Linked DNA regions of Homo sapiens: regions 1 and 2 are each linked to region 3. Evidence: fine-mapped expression QTL. A gene starts in region 3. Each other region holds a variant in brackets. All regions are shown on one strand. Distances are between the middles of the regions. Region 1 has its middle 29 kb from the start of NNAT. Region 2 has its middle 40 kb from the start of NNAT. Region 3 holds the start of BLCAP (BLCAP apoptosis inducing factor).

Evidence for each region. PIP is the estimated chance that this variant, and not a neighbour inherited with it, causes the effect. A credible set is the group of variants that fine-mapping cannot tell apart.
Region 1: its variant is the best candidate, but not a certain one, in a credible set for the expression of BLCAP in esophagus mucosa (GTEx, PIP 0.52).
Region 2: its variant is the best candidate, but not a certain one, in a credible set for the expression of BLCAP in whole blood (TOPMed, PIP 0.83).

Annotation. Positions count from the first base shown.
Region 1 is chr20:37,487,325-37,497,860 of GRCh38, reverse strand. No RefSeq gene overlaps it. Among named protein-coding and RNA genes, the nearest start is that of NNAT, 29 kb to the left of the region's middle. RefSeq lists an enhancer at 10,102-10,536. The variant G/T (reference allele first, on the strand shown) is at 6,610.
Region 2 is chr20:37,476,078-37,486,613 of GRCh38, reverse strand. No RefSeq gene overlaps it. Among named protein-coding and RNA genes, the nearest start is that of NNAT, 40 kb to the left of the region's middle. RefSeq lists an enhancer at 1-145. The variant A/G (reference allele first, on the strand shown) is at 4,143.
Region 3 is chr20:37,524,314-37,534,849 of GRCh38, reverse strand. BLCAP (BLCAP apoptosis inducing factor) reads left to right here and starts at 6,974. Exons shown (of 2, transcript NM_006698.4): 1 at 6,974-7,057. It also overlaps the pseudogene PPIAP3. RefSeq lists enhancers at 6,682-6,991, 7,082-7,131, 6,453-7,170, 7,888-8,606.

The sequences.
Region 1 (10,536 bases), 37 kb after region 3:
GATATGTGACAAATATTTTCTTCCAGCTTGTCATTGCCTTTAACTCTTTGTAGAATCTTTTGTTAGAAGTTATTAGTTTTGACATAATCCAATTTATCAATCTTTTCCTTTGATCCTTTTTTATACAGATACCATGTTTAGTCCTTCCCTACTCCTAAGATTTAAATATATTATTTCTTCTTTTCTAATAATTTTATAATTTTGTTTTTATTTGGTTCTTTATGCATCTGGAATATATTTTGATTATCATATTGATATATGATCTAACCTTTCTCCAAACGGGCAGCCAATTATTGCAGTATGAGGGGTTGACTAGTTCTTCCTTTCCCCTCTGACCTGAAGTAAAACTCCCTGATATTCTGAGTCAGGTGTGTCTGAAGCCCCTGTTTTTCCCAACAATCCATTTATTCCTTTCAGTACAAGACTGTTTTCTTTGCTGTCCCACCTTTTGGTATCTGTGAAGTCAAATGCCATGTTTCGTTGTGCTTCCTTCTCAGCTCTCTTAGCTAACTAGTACCGCACACTAACTCCTCCACATGAATTGTAAAGCCAGCTTGTCAAGTTGGAGAAATTGACATCAATACAATACCGAGCCTTTGAATTCATGAATACAGTAGAGCTCTACGTTTATTCTTATTATCTTGTATGTCCTTCACTCATGCACTGTTGTTCTCCCCATAAAGAACTTGCCCATTTCCTAATGGGTTTATTCCTATACTTTTTATTATTGTTGTGAATTAGTTTTCTCCAGCCCCCTTTTTTGTTTTGCTTTTGCTTGCTACATTTCTTTTTCATCTGCTTACTAATCACTCTACTTCATTCACAGGCACACACAAAGTAAATATTCCTCCTCCCTGGGCACAAACATGCAAGCACATCCAAACACACGGAGCCCACGTTATTGGCTGAAAATAAATAGTAATTTTTTAAAAAATTGAAGTCGAATGACACAAGCAAAACATGAATACGTTCCCCTTTTTTAAAAAAGAGAACATTGCAGATGAAGCTGGAGTCCCTTTTGGCCACCCACTGCCACCCTATTCCCTTCCTCCTCTCCAGAGGTAACCACAGTAATGGGCTCAATGTGGACTTTTCTAGACGTTTCTAAAAACTTACATATATAGATACCCAGAGGAAATATATGGTATACTTAAATAATGAAAATGTTATCTTTCTAGTTTTCATTAATATTCAACTTTTGTATTGACCTGAATTTTATTATGGTTGCAGAATAGAATGTCAACATTATCATCTGTCACAATGTGAAAGTAAAGATATAAAAGTTGGGAGGTAGCAGTGAAGGGAAGAGGGTAGGAAGGTTGACAGGGACAATAGTGGGGAGGCAAGAGCTTCTGTGGACATGTGGTAGAATAAGGAATGAAGGGGCAAGTAGGTTTCTTAAAAAGATAACCAACAGAGGTACTTAAAGACTGTGTTAGGAGAGGTAGGGATAGAGGGGAGTAGTTTCCAAGTGACCCAATGCCTAATCCACTGGGACATCAGTGGATCTTATGAACTAGAAATGGGGTGTAGCAGATGCTGTCTAGAGGGCTCCCATGACCCAGTTTTGACTTGGGACTTGTAAGGGGATATCTTCAGGCAGTTTCAGGGAAACACTTTCCTCCCTAATTAAAGAGATGCATGTGGGGCCAGGCACAGTGGCTGTCGCCTTGTAGTCCCAGCACTTTGGGAGGTTGAGGCGGGCAGACTGCTTGAGCCTAGGAGTTCGAGACTAGCCTGGGCAACATTGTGAAGCCCCATCTCTACAAAAAATACAAAAGTTAACCAGGCGTGGTGGCATGCACCTGTGGTCCCAGCTGCTCAAGAGGCTGAGGTGAGGAGATTGCTTTAGCTTGGGAGGTTGAGGCTTCAGTGAGCTACTACCATGCCATTCTACTCCAGCCTGGGTGGCAGAGTGAGACCGTGTCTCGAAAAAAGAAAAGAAAAAGAGGGATGCACTTGGAGAAGTTTCTTGGCTGCCCCCTTTCTTTCTGCCTAGGTGCTGTTGAGTGAAAACATAGTGCTTGGAGCCCTGACAGCTATCTATCTTGTGACCAGGAGGGGAAGGCCAGGAGACTCATGGTTCTCTGTTCACTCAGATCTCAGATACCTGGAACCACTGACTTTTGAACTTTTCATTACTTGAAATAAATGTTCTTGTTGCTTAGCCACTTTTAGGTGATATATTACGTTCTGGTGAAAGCATTCTTCCTAATACAAGCTGAGAGCTTACAGCTAGGAGACAACCTCCAGGAGCAGAGATCACACACTCTCGGGTAAGAGTTTGGGGTTGGGAGAGGGTCCATCCCGAACTTGCTGCTCTTCATCAAAAGCCCTTCTATTCTCTTGGATTAAAAAAAAAAATTCTGATAAGCCAGGCACATCATGCACCTGTATTCCCACCTACCTGGGAGGCTGAGGCAGGAGGATCACTTGAGCCCAGGAGCTCAAGGCTGCAGTGCGCTGTGATTGTGCCTGTGAATAGCCACTGCATTCCAGCCTGGTCAGCAGAACCAGGCACTGTCCCTAAAAACAAACAATTCTGATAACAAGTGTGTCAAGATGTGAACAGTGGTTGCCTCTGGGTACATTTGGATACTTTGCAGTTTTCTAAGATGTTGTCAAATGTTCTTAGGAGCTGACACATAAGAGAAGCTAAGTTTTGACTCCAGAAAAGGAAAGGCCCACAGCTGGTGAGACTGCCCAGGTGAAATCCTAGATGGATTCAAGGGGCGTTAGAGCTGGGGATGAGGAGCAAGCTGTGGGTGGATCTCACCTCACCTGATCCTGGAGGGCCAGCAACCTTCCTGGGTTCTTAAGGGAACTGCAGGGAGTCCAGCCGATTTGAGACACACAGGGTTGGGGGCATGGGTGTGGCAGGAGGGAGATCAGTGACAGATCAGGCTGGCTGCACCTGCAGTGCTGCTGTGTCATGACAAGAAGTGAGCTTCTATCCAAGGGTAATGAGGAACCAGTGGCCGTTTTTTCTTTTGTTTTGCTTTTTAATGGACGGAGTCTCACTCTGTTGCCCAGGCTGGAGTGCAGTGGCATGATCTCGGCTCACTGCAATGTCTGCCTCCCAGGTCAGCGATTCTCCTGCCTCAGCCTCCCGAGTAGATGGGATTACAGGCGTGTGCCACCACGCCCAGTTAATTTTTATATTTTTAGTACAGACAGGATTTCACCATGTTGGCCAGGATGGTCTCGAACCCCTGACCTCAGGTGATCTGCCCATCTTGGCCTCTCAAAGTGCTGGGATCACAGGCGTGAGCCACCATGCCTGGCCGTGGCTGTTCTTAAGCAGGGAGACAGGTGTGATCACTTTCATTTAGTTAAGTTTCTTTGCCAGTGGAAGAAGCTCAACTGAAACCAGCTCAGGCACAGAAGGAACTTAATTGGCTTCTATACGCAAACCACAGGCCAAGCTAGGTTCAGTTGACCTTCCGGTCCCCCGGGGCCAGGGACTTAACTGGCAGCCTGCCCCTCTCCCATCTCCATGTCTCCACGTCTCTTTGCCTGCCAGCTCCCTCTCTCAGGGATGCCTCTTCCACACACTGGCGTTCGTGACTGCCAATGTTTCACACCTCTCAGGTTCATGACCACAAAGAGATCGAGGTAGGAGCGCAGGAACTTGGTTAAGCATCAGGGCTACTTGCTTACTCATTGTTTTGTCTAATTTCTCTGTCTTCAGTGTCCTCACATAGGAAATGGGGATAACAACAGCACCAGCTTAATGCTGTGAGGGTCAAAGGAGATGATGTCCATCAAGTACTTACCTCGGGGATGGACACTAAGTGCTCCATACATGTTATGAGCTCTCTCTGTTCCCAAGTCCAGAAATCTAGACAAAAGCTTCCATTGGCCCAGTTGAGTTGGGGTTCACCTCTGGCAAATCAATGATGGCCATTAAAGTGGGTTGTGCAATAAATGAGAAGGTGAATTTCAAAGCAAATAGGTTGGGGTGCAGAATGATTTCCAAGAAGGATTGGCGCAGTTCTAGAAAAAGAACAGAGGTCATCCCTCTGGCTGCCAGCAGAAAAGGGTTTGATCAGGCCCCAACAGCCTGGAGGTAGGGAAGTACCTAAGAGGCACCACAGTTGTCCAGGTGAGAAATAACGCAGGTCTGAGCTAAGCAACAGTGCAGATGGAGAGAAGGCGGAGGCAAGAGAAGTTTTGGAGGTAGAAATAGGGGGCATGGTGCCAAGTGCACGGGAGAGATGAGACAGAATGAAAGGTTGAAGGTGGCCCCAGGTGCTAGCCCAGAAACCTACAAACAGAGCCTCTCCAAAATGTTGCTTCATTACTCAGGTTAACTCTTCCCAACACCACTGCCACTCCATTCTGCTCAGTAGCACAAACTTAGTTGAAGGTAAACCCAGCCACATCTGGACATTTCAAAAGACTATCTTAAGTAGATTCTTGGTCCACTTCCAGCTCCTCTGCTTCCCACTGCTCCTTCTCCTTGTGGGTAGTCAGTGTTCTGGGAGCTTCTATTCTGACCTGGCACCAGGGGCATACAAGTGATTCAGGTCTGCCAGCAACTATCCACTGCCATCCACTGAGCCACAGAATCCCTACTAAATCTTTGTCCTGACCATGAGGCACCTCCAAGTCCACCGGCTACACTCACCCTCTTCTCTACACCCTCACCATCACCACCGTGTTACAAAGACAAACAGGACCCTGGAGGACACCTCCCAGCCACCTTCTCCCACCAGGGGTCCTCAGCCTCTCTCCAGCCCATGCCAGGAGCTTGTGTTCTCTCAGGCAACACCTGAGGAGCCAGGCAACAGTCCCTTCTGCTCTGGGATACCTCAAATTTACTCTGGGAGCTCTAGTATCTACTATGAGCTACATCTCTTTGTGATTCCTTTATTCCCACTAGCTGGTCAAACTTTTATTTCCTTTTAGGCAGAAAAACAGCTTCTGTATTCTTCCCTGTTTACCATTCTGGCATCAATTTCAAGTGCTCAGTCCCTCAAGCTCTTTCCTCTTTACAAAAGCCCGGCTACTGCAACAAAGCATCCTGTCTGCTGTAAGTTTCAAGAGACTCTTTGAAACTACTGACCATCTTTCTCACTGCATTCATGCTGCAACAACCCAAATCCTGCAAAGCTCTGACTGAATCAGGAAAAAGTGACCTTGGTAGCTAGTCTCCAAAGATGGCCACCACCAATACTTGCCTTCCTGCGATATATATCATACTCCTTGTATCAGGAAGAGAAGTGTAATTCCCTCCCCATGAATCTAGGCTGGCCTTAGTGACTTTCTTGGCCAATAGAATATAGCAGAAGGCACATTCTGGGATTTGTAAGACTAGGTCGCAGGAAGCCTTATGGCCTCTGCCAGGCCTCTTGCAATGCTTGGCCTTGGAACACTCCCTCCTACAAGCCAGCTGCCATGCTATGAGAAGTGCAGGTCCTGTGGTAAATCCACATGTGGTCACTCCAGTCAACGGTCTCAGCAAGCCCCCAGCTGACTGTCAACTATGTGAATGAGCCTGCAGATGACTCCAGCCCCAGCTGCCATCTGACTGCAGCTGCATGAAACACTTAAGCAAGAACCACCTTGCTGAGCCCTATCAACCCCGGAACCATGAGGAATAATAAACTGTTTTTGTTTTTGTTGTTGTTGTTTTTGAGACAGGGTCTTTCTGTGTCATCTAGCCGGAGTACAGTGGCACAATCATGGCTCAATGCAGCGTCGGACCTCCTAAGCTCAGGCAATCCTCCCACTTCAGCCTCCCAAGTGGCTGCAACTATAGGCGTGCACCACTACACTTGGCTAATTTTTGTATTTTTGATAGAGATGGGGCTTCCCCATATTGTCCAGCCTGGTCTCAAACTCCTGAGCTCAAGTAATTTGCCTGCCTCGGCCTCCCGAAGTGCTGGGATTACAGGTGTGAGCCACTGCACCTGGCCAATAAATTGTGTTTGTAAGCCACTAATGTTTGGTGTAGTTTGTTGTGCACCAACATGGTGATGGGCAAGGAAGTGTGGTGGGGGGTGGGGAAGCACATCAAATAATATATAAAATATGATCCTACTACACAGCATTTAAATGGACCATCATAGTACAGTATGGTAAGTGCAGTAACGAAACATAAATATGCACAGAACTTTCCAGAAGAGGTGACCATTGGTCTTAGGGTGACTTATCTCCTTAGAGATGAGCAGGAATGAGCAAGCTAGAAGGAACTGGAAAGACCTTTTAAACAGAGGGAACAGCACAAGCATAGCCTTGGGAATGAGGAGCAGCAGGAGTGAGCTGGAGGGTATTTGGTGTTCCTGGACTATGACAAAAGAAGGAGGGGATGGGAAGAGCAAGATGAAGTGGACAGAGACCAGACCCTGCAGAGCCTTGGATGCCCCCATGTCAAGGAGTTTGGACACTGTCCTGCAGTCACTGGGCACTGTTGAAAGTTTTTACACTAGAGTGATGCATTCAGATTTGTTATTTGGGAAGACCACTGAGATGGTCAGTGTGAAGACTATATTTGGAAGAAGATAGTCTCTAGGCAGGGAGACCAATTTAGAAAATAAAGTCAGAAATGCATAAGGATTGTTGGCTGTTGGGGTGAGAGAGAGGGTAGAACCAAGGGTGATTCTC[G/T]TGTGTCTTTGGGTTCCTTGGCAGATGGTGAGGAGGTGCTTGAGATGGGGAACACAGCATGGTAGCCAGTTTGGGTGGGGGGAATGGGCTCAGTCTCAGAGAAGTAGAGATGAGGGGCCGGGGGTACAGCCAGGAGGAGGTTAGCAGACAGCTGGATGCCAGAGCTGGGACTCAGGAAGAAATCTGACTGGAGGGACCAACCTGGGGACAGAAGTTAATGGGACTCCAGGAATGAGCAAGACCATCAGGCAGAGAGTGTAGAGGGAAGATGGGAGGTGGAGAGTGTAGAGGGAAGATGGGAGAGAGCTCATAGCATCATGAGTCCCGGAGACATGTGAGGGGCTGACGGAGGTGTGGGTGGGTGACAAAGGAGAGAGGAAAAGGAAGGACCTGAGCAATGAGACAAATAACTAGGAGAGGAGGTTGCCATAGCAACCAAGATAGGGAAGAGTTTCAGGGAGAAAGTAATCACCACAGCTCGATGCCCCGAATCTCAGAAAAATAAGAAGCAGAAAGTCCTTTGAATCCAGCAATCGGGGGCTCCTATGAACCTTGGCAGGAACTGTTTTGGGGGCAAAGGGGTAAAAGCTAGCTTCCCCAGGGTCAACGGACTGAATAGGTGGAGGAGTGGCAGAACCTTCCTTAGAGAAGGTTGGATGACTAGGGAAGGAGTTGAATGGTAGCAAGAAAAATGTGAGCGATCAAGGGAGGGTTTTTGAAAACAGGAGAAACCCTAGAATTTCCTGGTCTTGAAAGAGGATGAGGATGAAAAGAAGAAAGACTTGTAAGTGAGCTGGGATCTATCCTCTGAGCCCGGCTGAAAGGAAACAAGTGGGTCTGATTGGAGATGTCTCAAGGGAAGAGAGCAAAGCATGGAAAAGACCTTTGTGGTGCACTTTCTGATCCTGAAAAAGTTAAAATTGATTATCAAATTCTGTAGGGTGGTTAAGAAAGGAAAAGGGTGCATTGAAATGAGTAGCTAGGAGGTCATTTGGTGACTGGTCCGGATAGCCTTTGCTGTCCCCTCCAAGAGCCATACTCTATCCTCCATCCTGTTCTGTGCCTGGGAGGCCAACCTTAATACTACCCAGACTCCATGCCTTCTGGCTTCTATAGAGGGTCCCTGACTTATGATGGTTCAACTTACAAGTTTTCAACTTTATAATGGGTGTACTGGGGGTATTAAAGCATTTAATGGGCCTGGCACAGTGGCTCAAGACTGTAAGTAATCCCAGCACTTTGGGAGGCCGAGGCAGGCGGATCACTGGAGGCCAGAAATTCAAGACCAGCCTGGCCAACACGGAGAAACCCCATCTCTACTGAAAATACAAAAATTAGGTGGGTGTGGTGGCGCATGCCTGTAGGCTCAGCTACTTGGGAGATTGAGGCACTAGAATCGCTTGAACCCGGGAGATGGAGGTTGCATTGAGCCAAGATCACTCCATTGCACTCCAGCCTGGGCGATAATGTGAGACTCTGTCTCAAAATAAAACAAAATAAAAGCATTTAATGACATGATATTTTTGACTTACAGTGGGTTAATTTGGATGTAGCCCCATCATAAGTCAAGAAGCATCTGTAGTTGAGTGTGACCAATGGAGGAAACAAGGAGACGCTGGAGAGAGGGAGGAGAGTGAGCTTCTCTGGCCACCTTCCTTTGGCTGTGGGTTGGCAGTGTCTGCATTCCTTTTCGTATGGCCACAGGTGGGGTCTCTTTCTGAAAGCAGCAGCTTTCTCTCCAGGTTCCGAAAGCCCATATCCTTCTCTCATCTCTTCAAACCTAGAAGTGTGATAGCTTCCAGCTGTTGCTCATCCCTGGGTGCTTGATCAACCCTGGAGCCTGCTACACTCTGTGAATGGTCCTTTCATTAAATTAGCTTCACTTTAATCCTTTGGAATGCACTGTCTCTCTCCCCTACCAGGTCCCCGGCTGAGTAAGTGAACTTGTCTAAGCTCTCTGGCCTTCACAGTGGGAGGGTACACAATGGTGAGCAAAAACAGCCCTAGGCCTTGCCTGTGTAGAGCTGCCACACCAGTGGGGGAGCCAGATGTTAATCAAGCCAGTAAAGAGACCGGGCACCATGGCTCACGCCTGTAATCCCAGCACTTTGGGAGGCCGAAGTGGAAGGATCACTTGAGGCTAGGAGTTCCAGACCAGTCTGGGCAGCATAGTGAGATGTCGTCTCTACTAAAAATCAAAAAAATTAGCCGAGTGTGGTGGCACGCACCTGTAGTCCCAGCTACTTGGGAGGCTGAGATGGGAGGATCACTTGAGCCTGGGAGATGAGGCTGTAGTGAGCTATGATTGTAGCTATGATGTAGAGAGCTACTGCACTCTAGCCTAGGTGACAGAGCAAGACTCTGTCTCAAAAAAAATTATTAAAAAAAAAAGTAAAGAAGTCCATAATTGTAAACTGTGATAGGTGGCATGGAGGAACCCTGCTATATCAGAGAACTAACATTCAACCAGGGGCATGGAGGTTAATGAGGATGAGAAGGACACATGAAGAAACAGCAGGGGTGAAGCTCCATGGAAGGAGGGTGGCATGTTCCAGGAGCCAGAAGGCCATTAGGGCTGAGGCACTTATCAGCAAAGGTGATTTTGACACAAGTGGCAGAAAACCTAACTCAAAAATGTTTAAACAGTGAGACATTTATTGTCACATATAATGAGAAGTCCCAAGGGAGACAAATGTAATGTCATTAAGGACCCATGTTCTGTCCATCCTTCAGTTCTCCCAAGCTCAGCATATGGGCTCCTGTCCCCACAGTCACAGGATGGCAGTAGTCACTCCAGGCATTGTGTCCACCATGCCAATGATCAGAAATGAAAGAAACGGGCAGATAATGAGGTCAGGAGATCGAGACCACCCTGGCTAACATGGTGAAACCCCCTCTTTACTAAAAATACAAAAAATTAGCCGGGTGTGGTGGTGGGCGCCTGTAGTCCCAGCTACTTGGGAGGCTGAGGCAGGAGAATCGCTTGAACCTGGGAGGCAGAGGTTGCAGTGAGCCAAGATCGCGCCACTGCACTCCAGCCTGGGTGACAGAGTGAACTCAGTCTCAAAAAAAAAAAAAAAAAAAAAAAGAATTTGCTTATGGCTGGAGGACAGTGAGTTGGAGCACCCAAGGGGGATGGAAGAGACAGACAGGGCAGAGCAGGTGAGTCTTGCAGGCCTTGAGAAAGAGACCAGAGTTGGTGCTAAGGCCCATGGAAGGTCACTGAAGGCTGGTGATATGAAAGAAAATGACATGATCCTATTTACATCTTAAGAAGTCTGCTCTTCGGTGTGGTAAGTGGATGGGCAAGGAGGAAGAAAAGAAAGTTGTGAGGCCATCACAGTAAGAAGATGAGAGATGGGAGGTGGCTGGAACCAGGATGGGGCAGTAGGGTGGAGAGAAGGCTATCTTGGGCAAGATTCCCCAAAGACAGAACTGCCAGGATTTGCTGGGATTGGATGGGAGGGGAGAGGACGATGGAAGAGCCAAGGTGATGCTGAAGAACCTGGTTTGGGAAACTGGGTTGAAGGTTGGGCCGTTTGCAGAGAAGGGGAAGACAAGTGAGGGTGGGAGGTGGAGGGTGTAGTTTTGGGGAGCAGTTCACATTCGGATTGAGCTGTCATGGGGTAGTTGGGTATGTGGTATGCCCTTGAGAGGGCAGAGCTGAGGGCATGAAATTAGAGTCATTAGTAATCACTCAGGATGAGAATACAGACAAAGATGCAAAGAGGCTGGGTGTGGTGGCTCACACCTGTAATCCCAGCACTGTAGAAGGCCTAGGCAGGTGGATCACTTGAGGTCAGGAGTTGGAGACCAGCCTGGCCAACATGGTGAAACCTTGTCTCCACTAAAAATACAAAAAATAGATGGGCATGGTGGCACGTGCCTGTAATCCCAGCTACTCGGGAGGCTGAGGCAGGAGAATCA
Region 2 (10,536 bases), 48 kb after region 3:
CTGCCTGTCGCTAGGTGCTGAAAGGTACAAGAAAATGAGAAAGACATTGCCCCAGCCATGAGGCAGATGAAACCAGTGGTAACTAGAGCTGGAGTCAGTACCCAGAGGGCAGAGAAAAGGCCTCCCAAAGAACATGGAGATCAGGTTACTTGCTAAAATGTACATAATTTACTTTTGTCCCTTTTCACCAACACTGCTAATCCCTTCACCTCTACACTTAATCCCAGAGCTCCAGGGCCCCTCTCACTGCCCTGCCCTGCTCTTCCAACTGGGCTTGTACTGCTTCCTCCCTCCCATGTCTCCTGGAAGAATCAGCTCCTTCCTGGACCTGCTGCCTGCTCCAACCCTCCTCCCTCCTTTCTCAGCCAGACCCAGTTCATTCCCCCAACACCAACAGGGGCTTCTGCCCCTTGCCCCAAAGTTGCTGTGACAAAAGTCCCCAAAGGCCAGGTCTAGGAGATGCCTGAGCCTCCACTGACCTCTGTGCATGTGGCCCACCAGTGGCCACTCTCTTTCTGGAAATGTTCCTTCATGGGCTTCTGGGACTCTCTTTCCCTGTCTTCCCCTCTTTCTCAGGCTCCCCTCCCCCTGTCCAATGCTGGTGCTGCCCAGGGCTCAGACTCCAGCCTTCCCTCTCACTGTGCACCTTTTCCCTCAACTTCATGCATCCTTGAAGCTTTGCCTCTCTCCTAGAGGCTGATTCCCAAAACTGATAGTCCACACTGGGCTCCTTTAAGCTCCAGTCCAACACACCCATCTTCCTCTCTACATCTTCTTCCAGATCCAGCCCTGATCTCTCGTCTGAGCTCCAGAACCTGATGGCCAACCATCTCAGACATCAACAACATATCCCAAATGAAATTCTTGGTTTGTTATTTTTTCACTTCATTATGCTCTTTAATTCAAATTCCTAATCTTTCTTCTGCAAATTTGTTCTTGACTGATGTCTCCTATTTTGGGAGACACTTAGCGGTCCCCTAGAATCTCTGCCTTCTTCTCTTGCAACATCTCATGGAAAGGTCAGTTGATCTTACCTCCTAACCAACTCCATCATCATGACCAATGGCTCAGTCCAAGCCGTCATCTCTTGCTTGGTCACTGCAGGTACTTGCTAACTTTCTTCCCAATAATCCAACCCCCACAGAGCAGCCAGAGTAGCCTTTTTTTGTTTTGTTTTGTTTTGTTTTGTTTTGTTTTTGAGACGGAGTCTTGCTCTGTCGCCCAGGCTGGCATGCAGTACTGCGATCTTGGCTCACTGAAACTTCTGCCTCCCAGGTTCAAGCGATTCTCCTGCCTCAGCCTCCTGAGTAGCTGGAATTACGGGCGTGTGCCACCACACCCAGCTAATTTTTGTATTTTTAGTAGAGATGGGGTTTGACCGTGTTGGTCAGACTGGTCTCGAACTCCTGACCTCAGGTGATCCGGCCGCCTCAGCCTCCCAAAGTGCTGGGATTACAGGCATGAGCCACCGCACCCGACCCATAAGCAAATTCTTCTAGTCCTCCAGTGCACCAAGCTCATTCCTCTCTTAGAGCTTTGGCTCCCATTGCTCCTCATACCTGGAAACCACTTTCCCACCACCCTCTTCTCAGACTTTTGGGCTCAGCTTAAATGTTTCCCAAGAGAGACCCTCCCCAACCACCCATCTAAAGTGGGGCTCCTACCCCATGCTCTCCCTCACATTCTGTTTGCTTCCTCCACAGCCTTTGCAATCACTTCTTTGGCAACTGCCTTTTCCTCTGTTTTAGAGGACTCTCCCCTAATAGACTGTAAGCTCCTTGAAGGCTGTTTCTTCAGAGACAATTTCTACCCTGGCTGCTCTTTTATCCCTGGCACCTAGCACACATTTGTTGAGTGAAGAATAAGGCTGTATTGACATTCTCTATCTCACGTGGTCTTGACAACCCCATTTCACAGAAAAGGAAGCTGAGATGTCCCAAGACAAAGTAGCGTGGGGAGGGCCCAACACAGTGCATGACTGGCAGGGATGTGGCTCAAAGCCATATCTCCTGACCGTGCCTCCAAGATTTCAGGATTGAGTGCACCACTGGCCTGCCCCTATGGAGCACAACAATACCATGTGATCTCCAGGGAGAGGAGGTAGCTAGAAAAACATGTATTGTGTAAAAAAGTCATGCTATGGGAAATTCAAGGTTAGATTACCAAAAGGGAAATTGGGTGTGGGAGTTAGATGCTTGGGGAAGTGATCTGATATGAAACAGAGATTTCAAGGGTTCTAACCCTAACAGACATTGCAGAATAAAACAAAACAAAATAACCATTATTTTGTAACAGAAAGAAAGACATCTCAATGAAACAGAATAGAAAGCCCAGATGCAGATCCCTAGAATGTCTAATTCTATGACTTATGAGAGCAGAGGCACTGCAAATGAATGGGGGCAGGCAGGGGGAATGAAGTGATTTGTCACTTAGTGAGGCTGGAAAATTATTTTATCTATTTCAGAAACGAAAAGCAATTATTTATCTCTCTTTATACCAACCACCAACATCAATGTCCTGTGATTTATTTAAATTTTTTTCAATTTTTTTTTTGTCTTCTTTACTTTTTAATTGATGTCATCTTTTCAGTAAGTGTCAGGTGATTTTTTTTTTTTTTTTTTTTTTAGACAGAGCTTCACTCTTGTTGCCCAGGCTGGAGTGCAATGGCATGATCTTGGCTCACTGTAACCCCTGCCTCCTGGGTTCAAGTGGTTCTCCTGCCTCAGCCTCCCAAGTAGCTGGGATTACAAGCACCCGCCACCATACCCGGCTAATTTTTTTGTATTTTTAGTAGAGACAGGGTTTCGCCATGTTGGCCCGGCTGGTCTTGAACTCCTGACTTCAGGTGATCCGCCTACCTCAGCCTCCCAAAGTGCTGGGATTATGGGCATGAGCCACCATGTCCGGCCATGTCAGATGATTTAAATGCAAAAAAAAAAAAAAAAAAAAGAAAGCATAGTAATAACTAGAAAAAACTGGAAATGATTCATTATCCAAACTATGGTCGAGGAAGGCCATTGTAGCATTTACAGCAATACAGAGAACTGTGCTGGAAAATATAAATATAATTGACTATAGGAAATGTAAAGCTTCTGTGTGTTGGAAATTCTCATAAATAAAACATTCACAGAGGCAGTAAGAATTTTCATAATGAAACATTGGGGTGATAAAAGGCTGTAAGAGCCCATTTATGAAAGATGAAGTTCAAAAGTCAAATTCAGTTGAAAATGTTGAACTTACTCATAATAAAATAAATGTAAATTTGAATGCAGGGATACCACTTTTGGCCCATCGAATGAGTACTTTACAAAGCAAGAGCTCACAGAGCTCATTCAGCCCCGGTGGCATGGGCCCTCTCTTGCACAGCTGGCAGGACTGTGAAGTGGCAAAATCTTTCTACAAGGCAATTTGTTTAAGATGTGTGAAGAGCCTCAAAAAGGTTCGTACTGTTTGACTCAGTAATTCCATTTGCAGGAAGCTCATCCCAAGAAGTGCTCTAAAGCAATGCCCAAAGATTTCTGCAGAAAGATGTGCACTGTGGCTTTAGGTGTCATAGCAAAAAAGAAAAAAGGAAGTTATCAAAATCTTCAGCTCCAGGAGAACAGTTAACCAAATTATGTTCCATTCATTAACTGGATTATTAGGCAGCCATTAAACATAATAATTACAAAGGAAGTTGACTAATATGGGGAGATGTTTAGCATATAATCAATGGAAAAGGATGGTGCAAAATTACATACAATGAAAGCATCTATTGTAAATAAATGCATTAAAAAGGCTAAGAAGAGATGTGCTTTTCCGGCGCATTTTTACAGAACTTGACAATGGATGTTGGGATTCTTGTCAAGATGTTTTAGTTCTTCATGACTTACTTCTCTCCAAATTTTCTGCCATATTTGGATATCGCTGTTTTTATGATAATATATTTCATTTTTCCCTTATTTATTTTGCTTAGACTGTTAGAGAAATATGATAATATATTTCAAAAGTGCAGAAGAGAACAAGAATAACATAATGAATACAATATACTCACCATCTAACCAATATAATGAATACAATATACTCATCCATCCATGTATTTCTTTTTACAATAGAAAAAGAAGAAAAAAATAAGAGCTAGGTCTTAAGGAAACGGTACCTGC[A/G]TCAGGCAATTTTTGAAGGGGTGAGGGCTTGGAGGGGTTGGGCAGGAAAGGAAAGAAAATGGTTCTGCATGAGGAGGCTGCCTGGGTGGGCCTTCTTCAAAAAACCTCAGAGCTAAAGAACAGGGAGGGAGCTTCAGGCTCCTGGTGACCAATGTCCATCATTTGAAATGCCCTTTCTAGTATATGGCAAATTCCCTCTGGACACAGGTCAAATCCTGAGCTCCTCAGTTCTGTAGGTCAGTGTGTCTATCCCTGTGCCATTGCCACACTGTTTAATCCTTTTGTTGCTTTGTCGTATGCTACCTAGTAGGGCAAATCCAGTCCTTTTTCCCCTACTGTGTTCCACCACTTGTTTTTCTTTCTCAAAATTATCTTGGCTATTCTTGCCCATCTCCTGTACCATATGACTTTTAGAATCAGCTTATTAAGTTCCATTAAAACATCCTAGTGGGATTTTGATGGGAAGACATTGAATTTCTAAATTAATTTTGAGAGAATTGACATCTTTACAATATCAAATGTTCAGGACCCTAACATTTTAAGGGTGGTTGAGTCAGAGGTTCTGATTAATGAGACTGGGAAGGAAAAGTCGTCATAGAGATGGGTTAAAAACAAGGAGAGGGTGTTGTCATGGAAACCAAGAGAGCCCAGCATTTCGAGAAGGCGAGAGTGATCAACAATATCAAACCCTGCAGAGAATTCCAATAAGACAGGGTTGGAAAAACACCCACTCAAGTTGGTAATTAGGAGGTTATCGGAGCCTTCAGCAAGAGCAGTTTCAGGGGTGTGATGGAGCAGAACCCCGACTGCAGTGCCTGAGGATGATAGATAGTCAGTGAAGACAGCCCTTTTACAGAAGTTTAGATAATTAAGTTTTGATAATTAGAAAAGTTTAGAGAAAGATTGTCTGGGAGCTCGAAAGTGAGATGTGGAGTCAAGAGAAAGTTTTCAACTCAATTCCACACATATTTTTTGAGCACCTCTTGTGTGCTGGCTAGTTGTTGATGAGACCATGTGAAAAAGACAGACACACATCCCTGCCCATGTGGAGCTTATTGTCTAAAAGGGGCTCCTGTTGCTTCCCCTAAAAGGGGAAACAGATGTGAATTAATTACATGAATAAAAGGATAATTAGCAACACTGATACTCATGAAGGACAAGTGTGTGGTGCTGAAAACAGTGAGGAGACCCCCAGAAGGGATCTGAAAGATGAGTGGGTATCAACCAGGCTAGGAGGAATCAGAAAGAGCATTCCAGGCAGAGGAAACAGCCCAGACAAAGGCCCAGCAGTGGGAGGGGCAGAGTGTGTTCTGGGAGGGGAAGAAAGCCAGTAAGGCTGGAACACAGTGGATGAGGGGAAGCAGGGTAAAAAATCTGAATGGAAGAGCCAGCCAGCTGGAAAGGTTTGGGGCTTTATTCCAAGAATGCTGGGGAGTCTTTGGAGACATTTAAGCATGGCAATGACTTGTTCCAATTTGCATGTTGAAAGTATCACTCTGGGCTGGGCACCGTGGCTCATGCCTGTAATCCCAGCACTTTGGGACACTGAGGTGGGTGGATCACCTGAGGTCAGGAGTTCGAGACCAGCCTCGCCAACAAGGCAAAACCCCATCTCTACTAAAAAAAATACCAAAAAAAAAAAAATTAGCTGGGCGTGGTGGCACATGCCTGTTAACCCCAGCTACTCAGGAGGCTGAGGCAGGAGAATCACTTGAACCTGGGAGATGGAGAACGCAGTGAGCTGAGACCATGCCATTGCTCTCCAGCCTGGATGACAGAGTGAGACTCTGTCAGAAAGAGGAAGGAAAGAAGGAAAGAAGGAAAGAGGGAGGGAGGGAGGGAAGGAAGGAAGGAAGGAAGGAAGGAAAGAAGGAAGGAAGGAAGGAAGGAAGGAAGGAAGGAAGGAAGGAAGGAAGGAAGGAAGGAAAATGAAAGAATGAAAGGAAGGAAGGAAAACGAAAGAATGAAAGGAAGGAATGAAGGAAAGAAGGAAGGAACGAAGGAAGGAAGGAGGGAAGGAAGGAAAGAAGGAATCACTCTGGCTTCTAGCGAGGAAGCGATGGCAGGAGTGCAGGAGGGGGTGGAGCTGAAGAGAACTGGAAGGGCCCAGGAGCCACTGGGAGATGAAGTCTCCAGGCTTGAGGCTGGACTGTGGAGGTAGGTGGTGAGAGCCAGTGAGCTGTGGAGGAAGATGCCAGGCGTCTCCTGGGTCTACTGGCTGGTGGCATCTCTCCATGAGATGTGGGACTCTGGTGAAGCACCATATTTGGATGAGAAGAGTTGTCTGTTGAGTCAGTTGAGCATGAGGTGCCTTTGGGACTTGTGGCTTCTGGAGTCCATAGGAGAACTTGGGCTGGAATTGGACATTGCAGAGGCTTTGGGTCCAAGCCGGGGTGGAGGCGGTGTTGAAGCAGCTCAGAGATGGGTGAGATTAAGGAACAGAGTGCAGAGGAATGAGCAGATGACAGAGGCTGAGCCCAGGCGAGCACTCGGGTTCAGGTGGCTGGGTAAGGGAAGAGGACACCAAGAAGGAAGGACCAGAGAGGAAAGCAGCAGGGGGGACTCCCTGGGGCCCATGGAAGAGAGTTTCCAAAAGGACACAGTGGCAGTGGCAGGGAGCTCAGGGGAGGTAAAAGTTGATTGGTGACCCTGGACTTGGCCTTCAGGGCCGTTTGTCAGTTTTTCGGGGATGCGGAGGGGTGGGTCAGGAGCAAGGTTGATACAGGGTCTATCTGTCAAGAGAGGAGAGTCAACAAAGGGGGGCAGAATTTTTTGCTTCATTTTGGTTTTAATAAAAGGGCAACATTTGCATATTAATTTTCCCAAAGGAAGGTACCTGTGGGATATGAGTTACTGTGGAGCAGAGGCAATTAGCTAAATGAGGCCTCCAAGGAAATGAGGCCACATGGACGAGAGGGATCCACCCTGGCGGTAACACACATCCAACCTCCTGGGACAGCGCTCGATTGGCCTTTTACTGAGTAATCTGCGTCCCACTTTCTGTCTGGGAACTTGTATATGACCTTTGTGTTTTAACTGTGTCTCCCTTTGGCAGGAATTTCATCCCACTCCATGGCCAGGACCCTGTCTCATTCGTTTTGGAATCCTCCCCAGTCTGGAGCAGCCAACTGGGGCTGTTGAACAAATATTTTCTGATTTGAAATAAAATGTCTGAAATGGGAGGTCAAAAATTTTTAGCCAAAAAGAGTTTGTGATTATCGAAACAAACAAATTCCGTGTGTTTGCTTAATTTTGCACGGCAGAGTGAAGGAGGGGCCAGGAGAGTTGGAGGAGAAGGTTGTGTGGTTGGCATCCTTGTCATGCAGGGATGATGGGGTATGGGACAGGAGGTCTGCTCAGGAGGGAGAACCAGGATCACCCACCCCAGCGTGGGCACAGGACTTCACAGTTTACACAGTTGAGTCAGAGCTAAGTTTTATATGATCCTCACAAACCCCACGAGGCTGACAGGGATTCCACGGAGAAGCAAAGCAGGAAAATGAGACTCTGCACAGGGCACTAGCTGTGGAAGGCCTCAGGGCACGCTAGTGGCAGGTAGCGGACTCAACCTCTGTGCCTCTTGCCTCTGACTCCAGCGTCCCAGCCCCTCTACATCCCAGAGTGAGCTCCAACTAGGTTCATGTCCAGAACTTGACTTCGGGGGGAATCTAGTCCACAATCAGAAGTCAAAGTTATGAAAGATGAAAGCGGAGTTTGCAGGTCATGAGGAGAAGGCATTCACCAGAAGGCTGTCTGGAGTGGGAGGTTTGACCAGCCTTCCCAGCTAGCAAAATATAACCCAAAACTACATCAATGAGATGACAGTGGCAGGGTGCAGGTCCAAGCTCCAGGACTCAGGGAAAGGCGACTTGTGTGTGATGGGCGTGAATGCCACAGTGTCAACAGGACACATAGACTGCTCTGCTCTGCCTGGCAGGATCTTGCCTCTTCTGGTCCCTCCTCACTTCCTGGTAACCACAGGCTCTGTCTCCCCGAATTTGGCAAACCCTAGCTTCCCTGGGTCGGCAAGCTCACTCTTGGCCCCAACCAAGCCCAGACACCCTCCAGTGCCAGCTCGGCTCCACAAGGCTGCTCAGGGAATTCTGCTGCCTTTGCTCCCCTTGATGTAACCACCAGGTTAGACTTAAGGCTTCTGCTCTGGAATCCCCCAGACTTGTCTGGGACCCCATCATATTCCCCCTTGGGATTCAGTTCAGGGACTGGAAGATGAGCCTTTTCTGGGGGATCCAGCCAGTACTAATATTCTGCTTGAATTTCCTTGGATTTCTCTCCTTCTGCCCACAGGTTGAACTCTTACCCCCTTCAAGGGGCTCAGGCTCCACCATCATCGTGAACTGTCTTTTCCATCTATTGTCTATGCATAAGCTCTTTGCCTCTTCCTTTAGCTTTAACTCCAAATCCTCCAAGCTTTGTAGAATCTAGAATGCTTCCTTTCTCAAGTCCCAGCTCTTGTCCTGAAAAGCTATGGCTTTCATTCCTGTAGACTCCCCTGTGGACAATAGTCCACACAATTGTGGTTTGTGCTACAGATTCACAAAAGCCCACAGAGGAGCTCAAAGGCCAAGCCAGGGACTCTATGTAATGTCAGCACCCCAAAAACCATGCACCCAGGAAGCTTGGACAGTGGGGCGAAGAATGAGGGTGGAGGATATTAAACCCATACACAGTATAACAGAAAAATATTACCATACTCCACAGAGCTAAGAAGGGACACCATGAAGCAGTGAAGAAAGAAGGGCTTAGTTAATAAATGGTGTTGGAACGATCGCTAAGCTATTTGGAAAAGCAAATCCACTCATTCTTCACTTCATGTCATACATCAGCATCAAGTTCAGATGGATTAAAGATTTAAATTAAAAATCACACTTGAATAAAGTAGAAGTGAATATTCACCCCAAACTCTCAGTGAGCCTTCTAAGCTTAAAAGCAAGGGAAGCAATCACAAAGAAAATAAGAAGAAAATAGATTAAAAATTTTAGATTTAACTGTGTGGAAATTGAAAACAACTTCCGAGGATGTCACGCAGAGGGTTAATATCCTTGGTGTTTAAGAATCCATACAAATTGAGTTTTAAAAATTCAAATCACTGCTGGGTAAGTGTGAAGGGATGAACACTCAATTAACAGAAGATTAATTTTTTATGGCTCATAGGTTGAACCCATTTTCCAATATCTAATTATTTTTTAAAAAGTAAATTAAAACAACAGTGAGATAACACATTTTGCCCATCACAGAGTGAAGAAAAAAATTTTAATGAGAATACCCCATGCTGGCTAGGGTGTGATGAAACAGACAATACTGCTGATGGGAATGTAAATTACCACAGCCTTTGACCCAGTAATTACACTTATGGTGCTCCATCAGAAGGAAATAATCTCAAATCGACAAAGATTTATGTACAAAGAGATGTAGTATGCCCTTGTTTCTAATAAAAAATGGAAGCAACCCAAAAAACCAACTATAGAGGAAATGTTAAGCAAATCATTTTATATCCACTCAAATGGACAATTATTCATCCACTAATTGTATTTTTACAAAAAGCTCGAAAATTCTTATAATATAAAAAGTGGAGCAGCAACTGAGAAGCCAGGGTGCAAATTATATGCAGGATATAATCTCAGCTGTGGAAAACAGAAAAGAACATCCAAATAAAGACTGGGAGGAAGTGCACTGGGACCCTGAACCTAAGGGCACAGGGCTCAGGATGGGTCAGCTTTGATGGGGGAAAGAGAAATAAATGGAAGATGCTCAAGTGGGGTCCTGGGTGTAGTCTCACATAAAAAACAACTTCATATCTGGAGGAGAGGGGGAATGGAGTCTTGCTTCAGCCTGGCTGTCTGATCCAGCCTGCCCTAAAGCTCCAAGAAAGAATTGCCCTGGGCATTGAGCTCAAGGAATTGCCATTCAGTGTGTACATCCAGAGCACAGGGCACCATGAGGGGCCAGAAAGGAAAAGGGTTGGGAATCAGGCCAGGAAGTTCATGCAGGCCCTTTGAGCCATGCTAGGGAGTTTAGGACTTTTATCCCAAGAGCAATGAGGAGCCATTGAAGGTCTTTAAGCTTCACCTTTCAAATAGATTACAATATTAGCAGGGTCTCCCTTCTTTGCAATACCAAAAACCCAACTCTAACTCAGGCATAAAAATATAAGTAAAAAATAAAAGGGTAAAACCAAAATGATAAAACTTCTAGGATAAAACATATAAGAGAACAACCTTCATAACCTTGGGTCAGGCAAAAATTTCTTAGCCACAACACCATAAAAGAACGAAATGATAAAAGCATGATTCATGAAGCAATAAATTGATCAACTGGACTCCATCAAATTTTTTTTAAGTATGCTCTTTTAATTGCTGAGAGAATGAAGGGACGA
Region 3 (10,536 bases):
TGGTCAAGCATGGAGGCAGTGGTGATATAAGAAGATGGGCTAGGTTGTGACTTATTTTGGAGGCAGGGCTGTCAGGACTTGCTGATTGGTTAAATCAGTCAGCCTAAGCTGTGAACTAAGACAGTTCACACAGCTTTCAGTTTCTGGCACATGGTAAGAGCGTGATATATAGTTATTGCTTGTACTATTAATAGGTTGATGGAAGTTTAGTAAGATCAGGCAGTTCCCCATTTTACCATTAGGTGTCACCACAGACCTGGCTAAAATAGCATACTTGCTTCCCATCTGAGAAAGCCCTGAGAAGTGTGGAACAAAAGGGCCTTAGAGTTGGGAACATTTCCCAAGGTCAGGAAAGTAGGTCAGGGATTTAAACCCAGTTGTCCTGACACCTTAAAAGCCATGGTGGGGAGAGGCCCTCCCTGCCAGGGCTCCCACAGTGCCTCCAGTCCCCAGGATAATTTTACATATTTGTAACAATAGGTAATTAAGGGTACTAACTATGTAACCCGTGCTAGTCTTTTATTTTTTGAGATGGAGTTTTGTTCTTGTTGCCCAGGCTGGAATGCAATGGCGTGATCTCTGCTCACTGCAACCTCTGCCTCCTGGATTCAAGTGATTCTCCTGCCTCAGCCTCCCTAGTAGCTGGGATTACAGGCGTGCATCACCACACCCAGCTAATTTTTGTATTTTTAGTAGAGACGGGGTTTCACCATATTGGCCAGGCTGGTCTCGAACTCCTGACCTTAGGTAATCCACCTGCTCTGGCCTCCCAAAGTGCTGGGATTACAGGTGTGAGCCACTGCACCCGGCCAACCAGTGTTATTCTAAGCATTTTATAACACAAACTCATTGAATTCCCACAAATGATCACATGAGGTAGAGTCAAATGTGTCCCCATTTCACAGATGGAGAAACTGAGGGACAGAGAGGTTTATTAACTTGCTCAATGACATACAGCCAGTAAATGTAGAATGGAAATGAACCCTTGCATTCTGGCTGCAGTCTGCGCCATCCTGGAGCTTACTCCATTCTCTGGTCACCTTGGTAATAATGTTTTTTATCCCTTTTAAAATCTTTTGATATCACATAGCTTCTTTAGTGCTTTAACATTTAACTATTGTTCCATTACAGGTAGAATTTCCTGAATATATAAGTATTGGTAAGGAGATAATGTTGATTTTTTTTAAAGTAATTGTCAAGCAGACTGATGTATAGGAAAGTAAGTATTGTGATTTCACAAAACATTGTTCTATTCATAACATAACCATTTCCTGATTCTTTATCATTTAGCCCCAAATTTGCCATCCAGTCCCAACTGAATTCCATAGACCTGGTTACCAGCTGAATCAGAGACTTGGAGGATACATGACAAAGGGAGGAGCTCGGTCTAGCCTTTCAATCATTCACTTATTCATTCAACAGTTACTGCCTCTTCCTTCCTACCAGACCCAAAATGAACCCTGCCCTCCAAGAGCTCACGGTCTCATGGGGGTTAACAGACAGAAAATGCACATGCATTGGCATTGCATAATTGCCCATCTCTCCAGACTGTCTGTAGTGTCTTTTTAGAAAACATATATATATTCTTTTTTTTTTTTTTGAGATAGGGTCTCCCTCTGTCACCCAGGCATTGTCACCAGGCACTGCACCCAGAGTGCAGTGCCATGATCATGACTCACTTGCAGCCTCAACTTCCCGGACTCAAGCAATCCTCCCACTTCAGCCTCCCAAGTAGCTAGGACCACAGATGCGCACCACCACGCCCAGCTAATTTTTTTATTTTTATTTTTTGTAGAGACAAGGTTTCACCATGTCACCCAGGCTGGTCTCAAACTCCTGAGCTCAAGTGATTCACCTGCCTCGGCCTCCCAAAGTGTTGGGATTACAAGCACGAGCCACTGTGCCCAGCTCTTATTCTCTTTTCTATCTTCCATGCCTAGCACAGTGCCTGGCACATTTTAGGTAACCAAAAAATATTTGATGAATGAATGCAAAGGCTTCATGGAGGAGGTGGCATTTGATCTGGGCCTTTAAAGACTGGGGAAGATCTTGACAGATGAGGACAGGGGACAGGGGACACCACCTCAAGAAGAGTGACAAGGTCATTTTACAAAGATCATCCTGGGCCAGGCATGGTGGCTCATTCCTGTAATCCCAGCACTTTGGGAGGCCAGGCAGGCTGATCACCTGAGGTCAGGAGTTTGAGACCAGCCCGTCCAACATGGTGAAACCCACCTCTACTAAAAATACAAAAATTAGCTGGGCTTGGTGGTGTGCACCTGAACTCCCAGCTACTTGGGGAAGCTGAGGTGGGAGGATCGTTTGAACCTGGGAGGCAGAGGTCACAGTGAGCTGAGATCGCACCACTGCACTCCAGCCTGGGCTACAAAGTAAGACTCCGTCTCAAAAAAAAAAAAGAAAAAATCATCCTGGGTGGAAGATGAAGGTTCTGGGTGAGACAGGCAGCAGAGAGACCAGTGAGGAGGTTGCTGCAGGGTTCAGGGGAGAAGGGATGGTGGCCTGGACCAAACTTTGGCAGTGGGGACAGAAAAGGCCTAAAGGAAATTCAGGAGCAATGGGCAAGAGTTGAGGAGTATGGAGCAAGAGGGAGCAGGAGTCATGGGTGACTCCAGGTGTCTGGTGGGTGGGAGCAAGTTGGGGAAGCCTTGGTAGGAAGTTGAGTTTGGCTCAGCAAAATTTTAGGGCAGAATGACCTTCCAGGTCTCTCAAGTCAAAGCCGGTGTTGATGGTGTTTCCACAGCCTGGAACTGAGCTGGGAAGGTGGAGCAATCTTGAGGACAGAGGGGAAAGGGTCCAGCTGAGCAGGAGCGAGTTCCATGTGCATTAGAAGCCCTGCCTCAGCTTCCCCAGTTTTCTGGGCCCCAGGGAGAAAGGGCTGGCCACTGAGGCCTTGTACATGCTAACACTCAGCCTGAAGTTACTGGAAGGTGGTATCCCGCAAAACAGACCTGATCCTTGTTTAGCAGCATGTCACATTCCATGGGATGGCAGGACCCCTTCCTTTCTTCCATTTTTCTTGTTTCTGTTTTTGAGATGGAATCTCGCTCTGTCGCCCAGGCTGGAGTGCAGTGGTGCCATCTTGGCTCACTGCAACCTCCACCTCCCAGGTTCAAGTGATTCTCCTGCCTCAGCCTCCCGGGTAGCTGGGATTACAGGCGCGTGCCACCACACCCAGCTAATTTTTATATTTTTAGTAGAGACAGGGTTTCACCATGTTGGCCAGGCTGGTCTCAAATTCCCGATCTCATGATCCACCTGCCTTGGCCTCCCAAAGTGTTGGGATTACAGGCGTGAGCCACCACACCCAGCCCCTTTCTTCTATTTTTCTTGAGGTATAACATACGTAAAGTATATAAAGCCCCCAGTCTTTTTTCTTTCTTTCTTTCTTTTTCCCCCGAAACAGGGTCTCATTCTGTCGCCCAGACTGGAGAGCAGTGGCACGATCTTGGCTCACTGCAGCCTCTGCCTCCCGAAGTCCCCTAGTCTTATGGTGAATTTTTACTTGATGAATTTTCACTTACATAATCACCAGCCAGAAGAAGATATAATCCTTCCAGCATCCCAGAAAAGCTCCTCTTGCTCCTTTCCCATCCCTACTCCTGACCTGACCCAGGTAACTACCATTTTGATTTCTAACCCTATAGATTAGTTGAGCTTTATATGAATGGATTCATATGGTATGTACTGTTTTGTATCTGGCTTCTTTTAGTCCACATACTATATGTGAGATTAACTGGTGCTATTACATGTAACAGTAGTTTGTTCTTTTATATGTAAAACACAGTATTCCATTGCATGAACATGCCACAATTTATCCATTCTCCAGTGATGGACATTGAACTATTTCCAATTTGAGCTATGAATAAGTCTGCTATGAACATTCTTGCACAAGTCTCCATGTAAACATAGGCACTCATTTCTCTCGGGTACATACCTAGGAGTGGAAATTCTAGATCACAGCATAGGTGTATGTTTAGATTTTGTAGATGCTGGTTTTCCAAAGTGGCTGTACCAATTTGCTCTGCCGTCAGCACTGCAAGAATTTGTTGCTCCACAGCCTCTCAACATTCAGCTCTCTTTTTCTTTTTTTGTTAGTTTTTATTTCATAATCATAAACTCTGCAATCCACCTGGGCATGGAAGGGAACAAGGAAAACATGAAACCCAAAGGGAACTGCAGCGAGAGCACAAAGATTCTAGGATACTGGGAGCAAATGGGGTGGAAGGGTGCTCTCCTGAGCTACAGAAGGAATGGTCTGGTGGTGAAGATAAAACACAAGTCAAACTTATTGGAGTTGTCTACAGTCAGCAATGGTGATCTTCTTGCTGGTCTTGCCATTCCTGGACCCAAAGCGCTCCATGGCCTCCACGATCTTCATGCCTTCTTTCTTCTTTCACCTTGCCAAAGACTACATGCTTGCCATCCAACCACTCAGTCTTGGCAGTGCAGATGACAAACTGGGAACCGTTTGTGTTGGGTCCAGCATTTACCACGGACAAGATGCCAGGACCTGTATGCTTTAGGATGAAGTTCTCATCATCAGATTTCTCCCCACAGATGGACTTGCCACCAGTGCCATTATGGCATGTGAAGTCACCACCCTGACATATAAATCCTGGAATAATTCTGTGAAAGCAGGAAACCTTTTAACCAAATCCTTTCTCTCCAGTGCTCACAGCACGAAAGTTTTCTGCTGTCTTTGGAATCTTGTCTGCAAACAGCTCGAAGGAGTAGGGGCCTAAGGGCGCGTCATCGACAGTGATGTCAAAGAACAAGGTGGGGCTGACCATGGCTGATAGTATGGGGATCCCAGCGGCATCTGCAAAGCCAGCTCTCTCTTTTTCTAAACAAGAGCTTCCACTACAAGACTCCTCTTGTCATTCAGTGTTGGATACTGGGTGTGGCTGCCATGGATGCATTGATCCTTTAGCCTGTAAGCAGCAGGATGGTGGGAGGCCACATTCAGGCCTGTTTTGAGTCTCAGCTGGAGGAGAAATGGACATCTCCTTGCTTTGGATGTGACCTCAGGAACTGGATAGCCATCTTGTGGCCATGAGCATAAACCAGCACAAGGACAGAAGATAAAATGAACCTCAGTCCTTGATGACACTGCCTAGCCACTGAGTGGCAGGCTACTTATTTTTTTAAGCCACTTGATGTAGTTGTGTGTTTAACTTGCAACATAAAAGATACAGTCCACCAACCTTCTTTATTCCCAAACCCCAACGGCTCCATTTCTGTTCTCAACAGCATCAGCCCCACTGAGCACTCCCTCCTTCCTGAAACCTCCTCTCTAGGACCCACACTCACTTGGTCCTCTTTCTACCCCACTGGCCACTGCTTCTTAGTCTCCTTTCCCGGATCCTCCTCTTCTTTTCTCTCCACCTTCTTTCACTTGCGTTCTCACCCAGCACCATGACCTTTGTATTGATGGCCCCCAAATATGTATCTCCTGCCCCAGCCTCCGTTCGCAGCTTCTGTGTCACATAAACCTGCCTACTCACCCTCTCTGCCTGCATGTTGCCCCGACATTTCAAACTTAACTTCTCAAAGCCGAACTTGATCTTCCCCCTCAGTCCGTTCCTCTTTCAGGCTTTATTGTCTTGGTCAAGGAATCTTTTACCCTTTCATTTACTCAAGGCTAAAACCTAGCGAGGAGTTATTGCCAATGCCTCCACATCCACCCAAGTCCAATCTTCCACCCTTCCCTTCACCTCCCCAAGCTACCACCCTGTCTGAGTCAGCATTGGCTTTTGTCTGGAAAGCTGCAACCACCTCCTAACTGGTCTGCCTACACCCACTCCTGAGTGCTTTCCAAGCCATGCGGCCTGGGTGGCCTTTCAGAAATCCTAATTTGCTATCCTCTTCCTGATGAAAATGGCTTCCCTGACTCTCAAGAGAAAAGCCAAATTCAGTATGTAGCTGACCTGTTTTCTTCTGTGCTCACCTCACCCCAACTCTGCCGCTTCCCAGCTCCAGATCTGGGACAAATGTTCTTTCTGCCTAGAACATTTCCCCTCTCACTCTTACCCTAATCGTCCTTTGTTTCTCAACCTAAATGCCATCTTCCCAAGGAGGTTCCACCCTTTCCCTACATTAGTACTCCATTAATTTCTCCTAACACTCTCTACTTCTTCTCACAGCACTTCCCATGATGTGTAATTATGTATTGATTAAAGTCACTAATATACAGTGATTATATGACTGTCTCCCCGCCTACCCGCCATTAGACTGGCAGTGCCTTGAGGTCAGGGACAGACCCAGGTTACCGACTCTACCTGCCCTTAGCACTGCGCTTGGGTACAGTAAGCGCCCAAGGAATATGCTTAATTAGCTAATAAATGACTACACGGACTCATTCAAGCCTCATAAAAGCCCTAAGGTGGGCATTTCAACAGAAGCCGGGTCGGGGTGGGCGAGGGGCTCGCTGGCCCAAGGTACGGGGCAAGTGGGGGAGCCGAGGCCTGACCCAAGGCAGTCCCAAGTTCTGAGCCCGGACCTTTCAGCTCCTGAGCCTTGGCTGCATGATGAAACGCTAGGGAGGGGGTGGACTTTGAGCCACGAGAAGGTTTTCCCGGAGTCCACGGACCATCCACGCGGGCAAGAACGAAGCGGGTTCACCAACATGAACACAACCCGGCCCGCCCAGCGCTCACGGAGTAAGGATCACAATCTGCTGCATATGCATGAGGGGACCCGGCCGCGCTTCGGGGCTGTCCACACTGCGCCTGATAAAAATTATTCGGGCTTGAAGATCTCGGGGCTCCCAGAGTTTTGTAAAAGTGCATACAAAGTCCTCAAAGGTGGTCTGTGGCTGATATTTACGGGAAATGGGGCGAGGATGAGCCCCCACTTCGGACCTTGTGATCAGGCGTTTGCGGTAGACAGCCCGATCCCAGGATGGGTCCTCGGCCGGCTCGACTAGAAGACTAAGGGGGCGTCTCCCCGGCTTCCTGCGGCGTCGGTGGCGAGCTGAGGTGGAGGCAGGCTGCGGCAGACGGCGACAGTGGCGGCGGCGCCATGGCAGGGCTTGCAGGTACCGTGGCGTCAACCTGCTTGGGGCGGGATGAGAGGCCCTCCATGCGGCCGCGCCGCCATATTGTCCCTTCTGGGTCACCTTAGGCGTCGCCGGGTCCCCGTCACTGGGGTTTTCCTTCCGCATACCCCGGGAAGGCAGGGCGCCCCTGTCCGGCTTCAGGTGATTGCCGTGATTGGACCTAGCCTGGGCCTTGGGGGGTCCCTTCCCAGCCCGGAGGTGGGTCATAGTACTCCTGGGTGCTGGCTCTGGCCTTGTCCAAGGTCAGCGCCCTTGCAGGATGAGACAGGCAGAGCCGGGGGCACGGGGCTGGGAGCGCGACCACCATCTCTGCAGCCCCGGGTTCCACGGCAGGGTGCCCAGCTTGTGAGAGGCCTGTCATTCTGTCCCCATCAGTTTAGTTGCGTTGCTTTAGTTGCTTTTTTGGGGGGGAGGTGGGGGGACGTGGGGGTGAGGGGAGAGAGGGTCTCCTGAGGCTCCGCTTCGGTGTCTGGGGTGATAGGCTGACGCTCTGCTAAGAGTCGCGGGCGCTTCTTACTCCCTCCAACTTTACATCAAGGGTGGACATCCCTTCCCTTTCCTTCTATAGACGTGGGGAGTGGCCCTCAAGGGCAGCTGAAGGAACGGAATGCCTGGCGCACTAATGGCCTGGAAAGGAAGCATGGGGGATGGGGGACAGTTGTTTTTTCCTTCCCCTTTCCAAATCTCCTTTAGTTTCCTTCCAGGCCTCCGTGTCCCATTTCATCGCCGAATGTTGGGAGACTGGGGTCTGTCCTCGGAAAGAAACAGCCTTTCTGTTTATAGGTTTGGATCGTCTATCCCTTTCAGGGAACTGGTGTGTTGGGGACGGCTTCTCTGCCCTGCCTGACATGGTCCAGTCATCCCGTCAGCCTTCTGGACGGCAACACCAAAGCTGGGACCAAAAAAAAGTTCCAGCTTAAGTGCTAATGCCAAGTGTTAGATCTTGTTTGCTTGTTTGTTTTAAATCAGAGACTAATTAATGTCAAGCAAATCTGTTAAAAGATTTGATCACGGGAAGCCTGGTCGGTTTCCAGTGACCAGGTCAATTCCATATCTGAAATTAGTCTTGTTAGAGTTGCTGCCAAAAACAGTTTAACCTTTAATCTGTAATATGTTGTTTCAAAGAGGAATCTGGGTTAGACTGTCTTTTTTTGTTGTTGTTCTCCTATCTTTGAAACACATGCATTCCATTTCAAGCCTGTCCCTGTGCGATATACCAAGAACCACGCGTTGCCTGCCTCTCTGACTTCCTGCTCTGGAAATGCTCAGGAATCTGGATCCTGCTGGGGCATGCATGGGCCCTGTGGGAGGGCAAGTCGGGGAGGGGAGGATAAACAGGATCACTCCCAGGGAAGATGGTGACAACGTGTCTCTGGGGCATATAGAGGAAGTCAGAGGTTACCGGGGGGAAAAGAGATTGTTGTTTGACTAGTGTTTTGTGTATGTGCATGAGTGCACACGTTTAAATCTCTGAGGGGGGGTGGGGGCGGTGGGGGGGGGAAGTTAACTGCAAATTCAGAATCTCCCTTTGGGGTGTTGGCTCCTGAGGAGATACACATTTCAAAATAGATATCTAGTAAATGGCTCACAGCAAACCTGCTCCCCGATCCAACAGTAATCCGTTGCCCAAGCTCAAGGAACTTGCCCCTGCCCTTCCCTGACAGCAGACATCCCTTCCTTCAGTGACAATTCAAATATTCCACAGATAAAGGTAACAGTGTCACATAGCACCCTGCACCCCTAAAAGTCATGGTACCTAAACACCTCTGGACTTAACTTCAGTTCGTTAGGCTAAGAAACTAACATCCTGGAGTATTAGTCTCAAGGGTCTCTCACCTGTTGCTGGAGTCCCACAGAGCTATTCCCAATTCCTTCCCAACCGATCTGCTCTGTCCTTGGCCTTGTGGGGGCAAAGTCTTCTGGGAGCAATGATGGTTTAGGCAAAGGGGACGTTCAGCACTGTGACTAAGGGCTGTGCAGTAAAACACTAGTCATTTTCAATTCTTCGCATTGCTCTCTATCAGAATAAAATGTTTAATGGTATAGTTTGTGGAAAAAATTTTATAAACAAGGTGTGTTTGGACCATCTAGGCATTGCATGGCATTGCACTGGATGGAAAGTGAATGCACTGTCTTCTCTGGTGGGTTAAGTTTGCTGCCAGAACATGAAGTTTTGTGGGTGGAGGATGCAAATGGGGAGTGGACATTGCACATTGAAGCCCACACGTGCAGGTGCAGGCCACCAGGGCAGCCCTTGCCTGGAAATCTGTCATCTCACCTTGCCACACTCACAGCCCTGCTGATGGACGGATGGAGGAAAAGGGCTTTGCCAAGATGATATGGAAAGCTCTGGGGCTACCAGGAGCCTCTTGTCCTCTAAGTGGGGGCACAAGAGGTGCTGTGTCCAGAGCAGCCAGCTCTTACCATGCTGCTTTGGCCTACCTCCCTGAAATCTGCTACCTTGTCACTTGGGCTGAGGTTAGAGCATCAAGAAGGGCAGTGGGGCTATGGGCATACCCCTCAAAAGCTCCGAAGGGAGGGTCAGCCTTCATGGAGAACACATGTTGGTATGTTCATGATTCTGTGGGTTTAGTGTGGAAAACCACAGAAACTCCCAGTTTTGAGGCCTGCCAAGATATGGGGTTCAGAAGGGAGGAGGTGTGGGCATTGCCTGCTGATGAGTCACACTGGGGCGAGAGGAGACCTGCCTCACCTTCAGGCTATGGTAGCAGCTATAGCCACCCAGCCTAAGAAAGATGAAGTCTCAGATTGCACATCCTCTTCAAGTCCTGATGAGTCCTGATTGCCACTGCTATGGCAGTTTCTAGCGTGTTAGGGTTCACTGGCATCTCAAAGGCCCTCTTCGAGAGGGAAACTGGAGATGAAGGGTACAAGGTGACATGTCCAGGTTCCCTAGGCTGATTGATGGCAAAGTCAAGACCAGAACCGGGATCTGCACCTCCCCACCCCTATAATTCTCTGATACCGAATGAAGTTTTAGATGCCTTTAGAGGTGCTGGTGATTGGGCTAAGAAACTTAAGGGCTTGCTTAGGGGAGGGAAACATGATCAGGCTTAAGGGGGCAAGGTACTTTGTGCTTCAGAAGTATTTGTGACAGCTGTGACTAAGGGATTCGAAGAAGTGGCAGGAAGAGAGATTTATGGCCCTCCAACTCCCTCCCTTGGTGTTGACCCAGCAACAGGTGTGTAGTGACAGGGACACATAAAGCCAGAGACAAGGCTGAACAGGCGGCAGGGCCATTTGGTGAGACAGTCAGCTGACCCCGTGTAGAAAGAGCCCTGACTCACTGGGGAGTGGGAGAGGAAGACAAGTCCGAGGCCGAGCACTGCCCACCCTGACGTGATGGCAGGGGAGAGCCCAGGGCCACGGACCTGGTAAGCATTCCTAAGAATACGGAGGCTGGTGCTGGGAAAAGCAGAAACCCAGTATTGGGGAGA